2 linked regions of the Homo sapiens genome follow. The protein of the gene in region 1 interacts with the protein of each later gene in a biochemical or structural test. Each region holds a gene or a part of one and is shown in the gene's direction. Other genes may lie near its edges. The genes, in order: CEACAM5 and CD1D.

Region 1 (4,590 bases):
CCTCACCCGGGTCACCTCGGCCCACGTCCTCCTCGCCCTCCGAGCTCCTCACACGGACTCTGTCAGCTCCTCCCTGCAGCCTATCGGCCGCCCACCTGAGGCTTGTCGGCCGCCCACTTGAGGCCTGTCGGCTGCCCTCTGCAGGCAGCTCCTGTCCCCTACACCCCCTCCTTCCCCGGGCTCAGCTGAAAGGGCGTCTCCCAGGGCAGCTCCCTGTGATCTCCAGGACAGCTCAGTCTCTCACAGGCTCCGACGCCCCCTATGCTGTCACCTCACAGCCCTGTCATTACCATTAACTCCTCAGTCCCATGAAGTTCACTGAGCGCCTGTCTCCCGGTTACAGGAAAACTCTGTGACAGGGACCACGTCTGTCCTGCTCTCTGTGGAATCCCAGGGCCCAGCCCAGTGCCTGACACGGAACAGATGCTCCATAAATACTGGTTAAATGTGTGGGAGATCTCTAAAAAGAAGCATATCACCTCCGTGTGGCCCCCAGCAGTCAGAGTCTGTTCCATGTGGACACAGGGGCACTGGCACCAGCATGGGAGGAGGCCAGCAAGTGCCCGCGGCTGCCCCAGGAATGAGGCCTCAACCCCCAGAGCTTCAGAAGGGAGGACAGAGGCCTGCAGGGAATAGATCCTCCGGCCTGACCCTGCAGCCTAATCCAGAGTTCAGGGTCAGCTCACACCACGTCGACCCTGGTCAGCATCCCTAGGGCAGTTCCAGACAAGGCCGGAGGTCTCCTCTTGCCCTCCAGGGGGTGACATTGCACACAGACATCACTCAGGAAACGGATTCCCCTGGACAGGAACCTGGCTTTGCTAAGGAAGTGGAGGTGGAGCCTGGTTTCCATCCCTTGCTCCAACAGACCCTTCTGATCTCTCCCACATACCTGCTCTGTTCCTTTCTGGGTCCTATGAGGACCCTGTTCTGCCAGGGGTCCCTGTGCAACTCCAGACTCCCTCCTGGTACCACCATGGGGAAGGTGGGGTGATCACAGGACAGTCAGCCTCGCAGAGGACAGAGACCACCCAGGACTGTCAGGGAGAACATGGACAGGCCCTGAGCCGCAGCTCAGCCAACAGACACGGAGAGGGAGGGTCCCCCTGGAGCCTTCCCCAAGGACAGCAGAGCCCAGAGTCACCCACCTCCCTCCACCACAGTCCTCTCTTTCCAGGACACACAAGACACCTCCCCCTCCACATGCAGGATCTGGGGACTCCTGAGACCTCTGGGCCTGGGTCTCCATCCCTGGGTCAGTGGCGGGGTTGGTGGTACTGGAGACAGAGGGCTGGTCCCTCCCCAGCCACCACCCAGTGAGCCTTTTTCTAGCCCCCAGAGCCACCTCTGTCACCTTCCTGTTGGGCATCATCCCACCTTCCCAGAGCCCTGGAGAGCATGGGGAGACCCGGGACCCTGCTGGGTTTCTCTGTCACAAAGGAAAATAATCCCCCTGGTGTGACAGACCCAAGGACAGAACACAGCAGAGGTCAGCACTGGGGAAGACAGGTTGTCCTCCCAGGGGATGGGGGTCCATCCACCTTGCCGAAAAGATTTGTCTGAGGAACTGAAAATAGAAGGGAAAAAAGAGGAGGGACAAAAGAGGCAGAAATGAGAGGGGAGGGGACAGAGGACACCTGAATAAAGACCACACCCATGACCCACGTGATGCTGAGAAGTACTCCTGCCCTAGGAAGAGACTCAGGGCAGAGGGAGGAAGGACAGCAGACCAGACAGTCACAGCAGCCTTGACAAAACGTTCCTGGAACTCAAGCTCTTCTCCACAGAGGAGGACAGAGCAGACAGCAGAGACCATGGAGTCTCCCTCGGCCCCTCCCCACAGATGGTGCATCCCCTGGCAGAGGCTCCTGCTCACAGGTGAAGGGAGGACAACCTGGGAGAGGGTGGGAGGAGGGAGCTGGGGTCTCCTGGGTAGGACAGGGCTGTGAGACGGACAGAGGGCTCCTGTTGGAGCCTGAATAGGGAAGAGGACATCAGAGAGGGACAGGAGTCACACCAGAAAAATCAAATTGAACTGGAATTGGAAAGGGGCAGGAAAACCTCAAGAGTTCTATTTTCCTAGTTAATTGTCACTGGCCACTACGTTTTTAAAAATCATAATAACTGCATCAGATGACACTTTAAATAAAAACATAACCAGGGCATGAAACACTGTCCTCATCCGCCTACCGCGGACATTGGAAAATAAGCCCCAGGCTGTGGAGGGCCCTGGGAACCCTCATGAACTCATCCACAGGAATCTGCAGCCTGTCCCAGGCACTGGGGTGCAACCAAGATCACACAAATCCCTGCCCTCATGAAGCTCATGCTCTCATGGGGAGGAAGACAGACATACAAAGAGATCTAGAATGTGAGGTCAGGTGTTGACAAGAGCCCTGGAGGGAATAGAGCAGGGAAAGGTCAGAAAAGGAAGACCCAGGGTCTCTAGAGGAGGTGTCAGGGAAGGGATCTCCCAAGAATGCCCTGATGTGAGCAGGACCTGAAGGCAATGGGGAGGGAGCCGTGAAGACCCCTGGAAAAGCAGATTCCACACAGGGAAATGCCAAGGTCAGAGGTGCTAAGGAAATAGGAGACACACTGCTGACCTTGACCTAGTAGGACACACACACACACACACACACACACACACTCACTCACTCCAGGGCTGGGGGATGAAGAGACCTGCTCAGGACCCAGGACCCCATTTTTCCACCCTAATGCATAGGTCCCAATATTGACCGATGCTCTCTGCTCTCTCCTAGCCTCACTTCTAACCTTCTGGAACCCGCCCACCACTGCCAAGCTCACTATTGAATCCACGCCGTTCAATGTCGCAGAGGGGAAGGAGGTGCTTCTACTTGTCCACAATCTGCCCCAGCATCTTTTTGGCTACAGCTGGTACAAAGGTGAAAGAGTGGATGGCAACCGTCAAATTATAGGATATGTAATAGGAACTCAACAAGCTACCCCAGGGCCCGCATACAGTGGTCGAGAGATAATATACCCCAATGCATCCCTGCTGATCCAGAACATCATCCAGAATGACACAGGATTCTACACCCTACACGTCATAAAGTCAGATCTTGTGAATGAAGAAGCAACTGGCCAGTTCCGGGTATACCGTGAGTGATTCCCCCATGACCTCTGGGTGTTGGGGGTCAGTTCTACTTCCCACACACAGGATTATCAGGCCTGGGCTGTGCCTGTGGCCCCCTCTGCATTACGCACCATGTTAGGGTTTGGGCATTTAGTGCAGGATACACACAGAAGAGACAAACTTCAACAGATCAGAATTCCTTTCCGGCATCCAGACCCTGCAGACACTCACTGCAGAGGAAGGACAGTCTGATGTGGGGGACTTAGCAGGGGGAGGTCAGTCTCAGCCAAGCACCCCGTGCCCTCCCCGTAAACCTGACCCTGAGAAAGACCCTGGAGAACTGCATCAGAGCCTGGCCTGAGGGACCCCTGGGATATTCACAGAGAAGCTCAGCCCCAGGGCTCCTGGTTCCAGGTGACTCAGGGGAGCCTGTGCCAGGGCTGTGTTGTGGCCTCCTGGGCAAGGCTAACTGGAAGCAAGGACTTAGCAGCTGTCCAAGGGCTGTGGCTCCTGGAGCTGGATTCTGGATGCAGAATCGGACTTTCTGGCCACACTTGTTCCCTGTCCCCAGAGTCTCATTTGGACAAGGACAGAGCCTTGTCCTTTACTTGAGACTCAATGTGGGGAGGATAGATAGACAAGGTTATTAGGGTGTCAGTCCATTGCCCTGGGGACATAGGTGACTCCATGGGAAGCTCAGTGTCCCCAGGAAGAGGAACAGAGGAGAGAAGATGCTCCCGGCAGCTCCTTGTCCACCAGGGATCAGGCCCAGGGCCTTCTCTCTTGGAGGCAAATAAACATAAATGATGTTCATTTGAGCAGCTCCTCTGTGCAGAGCTGAGATCAAGTAATTGTAAATATTTTGAGGTTAATTCACAAACAACCTCACAGCCAAATAGCACTTATCCTACTTATTGAAAGGAAATTGAGGCACAGGGAGACAGTCACTAACAAGGGTCACACAGGCCATAGGTGTCAGATTGAAGTCACATGAGGTCTGTCTGTAGCCACAGCCCCCTCCTCTCCTCAACTGGGGGTGGGTGGGGCTGTTTGTTGTTAGGCATCTGCATCTGAGACCAGTCATGGGCTTGCGTTCTTTTGTCTTGGGCATCCACAGCTCAGAAGCGGAGATTCTGGTCTGGAGAGTGATAAGTAAATGGAGAAATAATCAGTTTTACTCTAGAACTAGATCACCTCAACAGTCAGGGTCAGTGCCGGGATTGTCCAGGCCTCTCCCTGAGATCCACAGCCCCCTCACATGACCTCAAATCCTGTGTTTCCCGATGTGTCAGTGTCACTCCCACGGAAGGATAAAGGAAAGGACTTCGCTTTCTCTCCCCACTCACACCCTGTGCCAACAGAGGCCCAAAGTGAGACACACGCTTGCTCAGTAGCTCTCTCATGAAGGGGGGAATGAGTGAAGGAATGATCCATAACCTCTATAGAGACTGGATCCTGGATGCAGAATCCTGGGAGGTTCTGACCACACCTGT
Region 2 (4,463 bases), on another chromosome or scaffold:
ATTTTGTATCCAAATTTAATAATTTAACACCTTATTTGTTACAAGAACACGTTACTATGTTATTTTAAGCTTTTTTGGGCAAATTACACATAATTAGATAGGCTGGGTTAGGGCTGTCTACAAGATCCCAGCCTAGAGTGTGGTGCAGTAGCCTATTTTCTCTAGGACTCTTGCTGCAACAGGATATGGGAGAAGGGAAACATTAACGTTAGCAGAATGGGAGGAATCAGATTATGGAGACATGATCCTTGCCTTCTGGCACCTCTCCAGCTGATTTAGAAGAGGACACAGAGGGAGACAGACATATGGCCATTTCTATAATTATAAACTCTGCTACATGCTGAGAGGATGGCTTCTCAAAGCCAGTTAGTGTACAAGCAGTGGAGGTTGGGACTGCCCTACTTCTCCTGCCTAGGGTCACACAGTCTGGCAGATCTGGAAAGACTTCCCTGAGAAAGTGACCTTGGAACTGATACCTTAGTGGAAATAACTAGGCATTGGGAGGGGGTGAGGTGAGGAGAAGGTCAAGAGCTTTCATGTAGAGGGAACTTTGTGCAGAGACCTTAGTCAGGAAGAGGTTTTGCATAGTGGAGGAACTGAAAGCTAACAGCCAGGCTACAGTACAGAGCAAATGATGCTGGGGTGTGAGGTGATGTCAAAAGGTAGACACCAGGGCTAGAGGGCGCATAATCTTGCAGGCCGTGCTAATGATTTTGTTTTCTACCCAAGAATGCTACTTCAGGAGATCAGTCAAAAGGTTAGGGTGATGGTGACGGTGGAAATATAGAAAAAGGAATTTATTCAAGAGGTATTCAAAAAGAAGTGAAATAGAGATGAGTTGGAGATAGATTGGATAAAAAGAGTGAGGGAGAGGGAGGTGTCAGGCTGCAGCCCAGGTTCTGAGTTGCCAAAGAGGAGTCTTTTCCTCCAGGTGAGCTAAGGCTTAGAACCACGATTTTTGGTCACTTTTTCTTATTTTCAGTGTGAGAAGTGGCGAGTTGGCTGTCCAGGTACACACTGTCATCTTACACTTACTGTTTAAGACAGAGGCGCATATTTGGAAAGTGAATGAGTCAGGAGCCAGAGGAGAAGGTATGCCGGCAGAGCCTAGGGCGGAGAGGAGGAAGAGAGTCTGGGGGCGCGTCCCCAAAAAGGAGACAGGGAAGACAGAGCAGAGGCCGGGGAGGGGAGAGCAAGGACCATGACAGGAGGAAAGAGAGGCTAGGGAACACTGAGGTGGAGGAATCCTGGGATATGACAGTTGTAAAGAATTGTAGCCAACCTAATCCAGTTCTCTCAATGTGCAACTGAGGAAATTAATTTTCATGCGTTTACTTTATTGTAAATGTGGTACTTGCACTTGAGAAATTTTGGAAAACATAAAGATGTAAAGCAAATTAAGATCACTCATAGTCTTTCCACCTAGAGACATGTACTGCTAAAGCAAGGACTTTGATCCTTTTTTCCCTTTGCATTTTTACCATGGTTGGAATTGTAACACAGACACAACCTTATGTCCTGCTTCCAAAACATAAATAATGGTTGTAAAGCGTCCCACACGTTGACCCAAAGTCTCCTTTGAAACAGGAAATTGAGACACGCCGGTTGTGAAACCTACTGAAGTGAGCGGCGGCGCCAGGATTCCTGGGACCCCGACCTCTTTGCAGCTCGCACAGCTAAGGGCGAGGGCGCCCTTCGGCAGAAGCAGCAAACCGCCGGCAAGCCCAGCGAGGAGGGCTGCCGGGGTCTGGGCTTGGGAATTGGCTGGCACCCAGCGGAAAGGGACGTGAGCTGAGCGGCGGGGGAGAAGAGTGCGCAGGTCAGAGGGCGGCGCGCAGCGGCGCTCCGCGAGGTCCCCACGCCGGGCGATATGGGGTGCCTGCTGTTTCTGCTGCTCTGGGCGCTCCTCCAGGCTTGGGGAAGCGCTGAAGGTGGGTGGAACGAGGGCGCTTGAGTGCACTCGCGGGAGGGCGGAGAGAGGGAGCTGGGTAGGGACGGGGAGGGCAACGCCTGATGGGGACTGGTGAGACCCGGGACGCACTGGCGCGATCTAGGTAGAAAACTCGCTGCTCCCTGGCTCCGGGGAGAGGCAGCGCGGCACAGAGTTCGCTGGCATCAGCCGCCTCCTGAAGCTCATCTCCTCTTGTTTCTTTCTTCCTTCTCTTTATGCTGGCTGCTCTCCCGGCCACTTGCTACACGCCTCCAATCTTCATTCTCTCCCAGTCCCGCAAAGGCTTTTCCCCCTCCGCTGCCTCCAGATCTCGTCCTTCGCCAATAGCAGCTGGACGCGCACCGACGGCTTGGCGTGGCTGGGGGAGCTGCAGACGCACAGCTGGAGCAACGACTCGGACACCGTCCGCTCTCTGAAGCCTTGGTCCCAGGGCACGTTCAGCGACCAGCAGTGGGAGACGCTGCAGCATATATTTCGGGTTTATCGAAGCAGCTTCACCAGGGACGTGAAGGAATTCGCCAAAATGCTACGCTTATCCTGTGAGCTGAGGGATAGGATCCTGGGCCGGTACCCAAGGGGAGAGAATGGCCACAGAAACTCAACTGGGAGACTGTGGCACCACCTGATGAGATTCTCTGCTCTGTCCACCCTCTTCTGATTTCCCTTCTACCTGGAGATGTCCCAGGCTTTGACTCCTCAAAGTGTCCCTCGTTCCTGCCTACTCCAGGTCACTTACTTTCCTTTCCCTGAAGTCTGGGTCCCCATTATAACCTGCACATCAATTTCTTCTCTTTCATCTCTCCCAGTCTTTTAAACCCTTCTTTGATCTTTCTCCATTCCTCTCCACAGATCCCTTGGAGCTCCAGGTGTCCGCTGGCTGTGAGGTGCACCCTGGGAACGCCTCAAATAACTTCTTCCATGTAGCATTTCAAGGAAAAGATATCCTGAGTTTCCAAGGAACTTCTTGGGAGCCAACCCAAGAGGCCCCACTTTGGGTAAACTTGGCCATTCAAGTGCTCAACCAGGACAAGTGGACGAGGGAAACAGTGCAGTGGCTCCTTAATGGCACCTGCCCCCAATTTGTCAGTGGCCTCCTTGAGTCAGGGAAGTCGGAACTGAAGAAGCAAGGTCAGCCTGCCTTCCTTACTCCCTGCATTCCACTTCAGGGCTCCAAACGGGCTTTTCCATTCCAGGGTTCTCATCCCTTTGAGCATTCAAAGAAGAGGAAGGCCCAGGAGGGGCTGGATAAGGGGTGAGGGTATTTATTCATTTCACAGACATCAACTGAGCACCTCTTGGGTTCTATGAATTCAATTAATGAACAACTGGGGGTGAAAGGTGTCAGGCAGTTAGTTAGGATCCCTGCTTGGTAGGGGGATGTTAATTAATGCAATGCTTGAAATAGGCTACATATGTTACTTCAAAACAAAGGGTGTTATAGGGGAACAGACAAGGGGCATTCATAGGAGGCTGGGACCAGAGAAGAAGAAGGAGTATCAGGGCAGGCTCCCTGAAGAAGGTGGGACAAATGGATTGAAAGTTGTGGGAGACTTCATTTCCAGAAGTGAACATGTCAGGGGCATACAGGAAGGAGGGAAATAAAGACCTGAAAGTCAAAAAGGATGATATGAGGCCTGGAGCCTCTAATGCAGAGTTTTCACTTTAAGATCCCCCCCATTCCCTTGTTGGATACAGTGAAGCCCAAGGCCTGGCTGTCCCGTGGCCCCAGTCCTGGCCCTGGCCGTCTGCTGCTGGTGTGCCATGTCTCAGGATTCTACCCAAAGCCTGTATGGGTGAAGTGGATGCGGGGTGAGCAGGAGCAGCAGGGCACTCAGCCAGGGGACATCCTGCCCAATGCTGACGAGACATGGTATCTCCGAGCAACCCTGGATGTGGTGGCTGGGGAGGCAGCTGGCCTGTCCTGTCGGGTGAAGCACAGCAGTCTAGAGGGCCAGGACATCGTCCTCTACTGGGGTGAGAAAAAGCTGGGCCCAAGCTGGAAATGGCAGGAGGTGGTCCTCAGGCATAGAGGGAGGCACTGGGGTGGGATGTGGCTTGATATACCCAGGTTAGAGGAGTTTCAGAGATGAGGCCCCCAGTAAAAGGATAGAGAGAGGGGTTCCAGACACAGGAAGGAGGGAAATAAAGACCTGAAAGTCTAAAAGGATTGAAATAGTGCTCTCTATATACAAGAAGAAACAAGACTACAAAACTCAGGGATCCAGAAGTAGGCAGCGAATAAACAATCCCAGGACGATTCATTCCTTGGCTTAAAGGGAGCCAGGCCTTTGGGAAGGCAGGTTAGCAAAGATAGCTTGGTTGGTTGAGTGCTCCCTGTGTAGGGGCCAATGAATCTGCATATAATATCTCATCTCATCATTCACAGTTTTCTTTGAAGCAAGTACTGCTCTTTTCGTTATATAGATGAGGAAATGAAGGCGGAGATAGGTTAACTGCCCGGAGCCACATAGAAAGTGGACGGGCTGGATTTAGATTCAGGTCTGCCTTGCTA

The links.
Region 2: the proteins of CEACAM5 (region 1) and CD1D form a complex in vitro, tested with the Homo sapiens proteins (one large-scale study listed by IntAct).

Annotation. Positions count from the first base shown.
Region 1 is NC_000019.10:41,706,918-41,711,507, forward strand, and holds the start of CEACAM5 (cell adhesion molecule CEACAM5 isoform 1 preproprotein), read left to right. Parts: upstream 1-1,708; 5' UTR 1,709-1,814; coding exon 1,815-1,878; intron 1,879-2,762; coding exon 2,763-3,122; intron 3,123-4,590. UniProt on the Homo sapiens protein: Cell surface glycoprotein that plays a role in cell adhesion, intracellular signaling and tumor progression. Mediates homophilic and heterophilic cell adhesion with other carcinoembryonic antigen-related cell adhesion molecules, such as CEACAM6.
Region 2 is NC_000001.11:158,179,232-158,183,694, forward strand, and holds the start of CD1D (antigen-presenting glycoprotein CD1d isoform 1 precursor), read left to right. Parts: upstream 1-1,663; 5' UTR 1,664-1,870; coding exon 1,871-1,931; intron 1,932-2,223; coding exon 2,224-2,490; intron 2,491-2,800; coding exon 2,801-3,079; coding exon of another isoform or gene 3,080-3,203; intron 3,204-3,646; coding exon 3,647-3,925; intron 3,926-4,463. UniProt on the Homo sapiens protein: Antigen-presenting protein that binds self and non-self glycolipids and presents them to T-cell receptors on natural killer T-cells.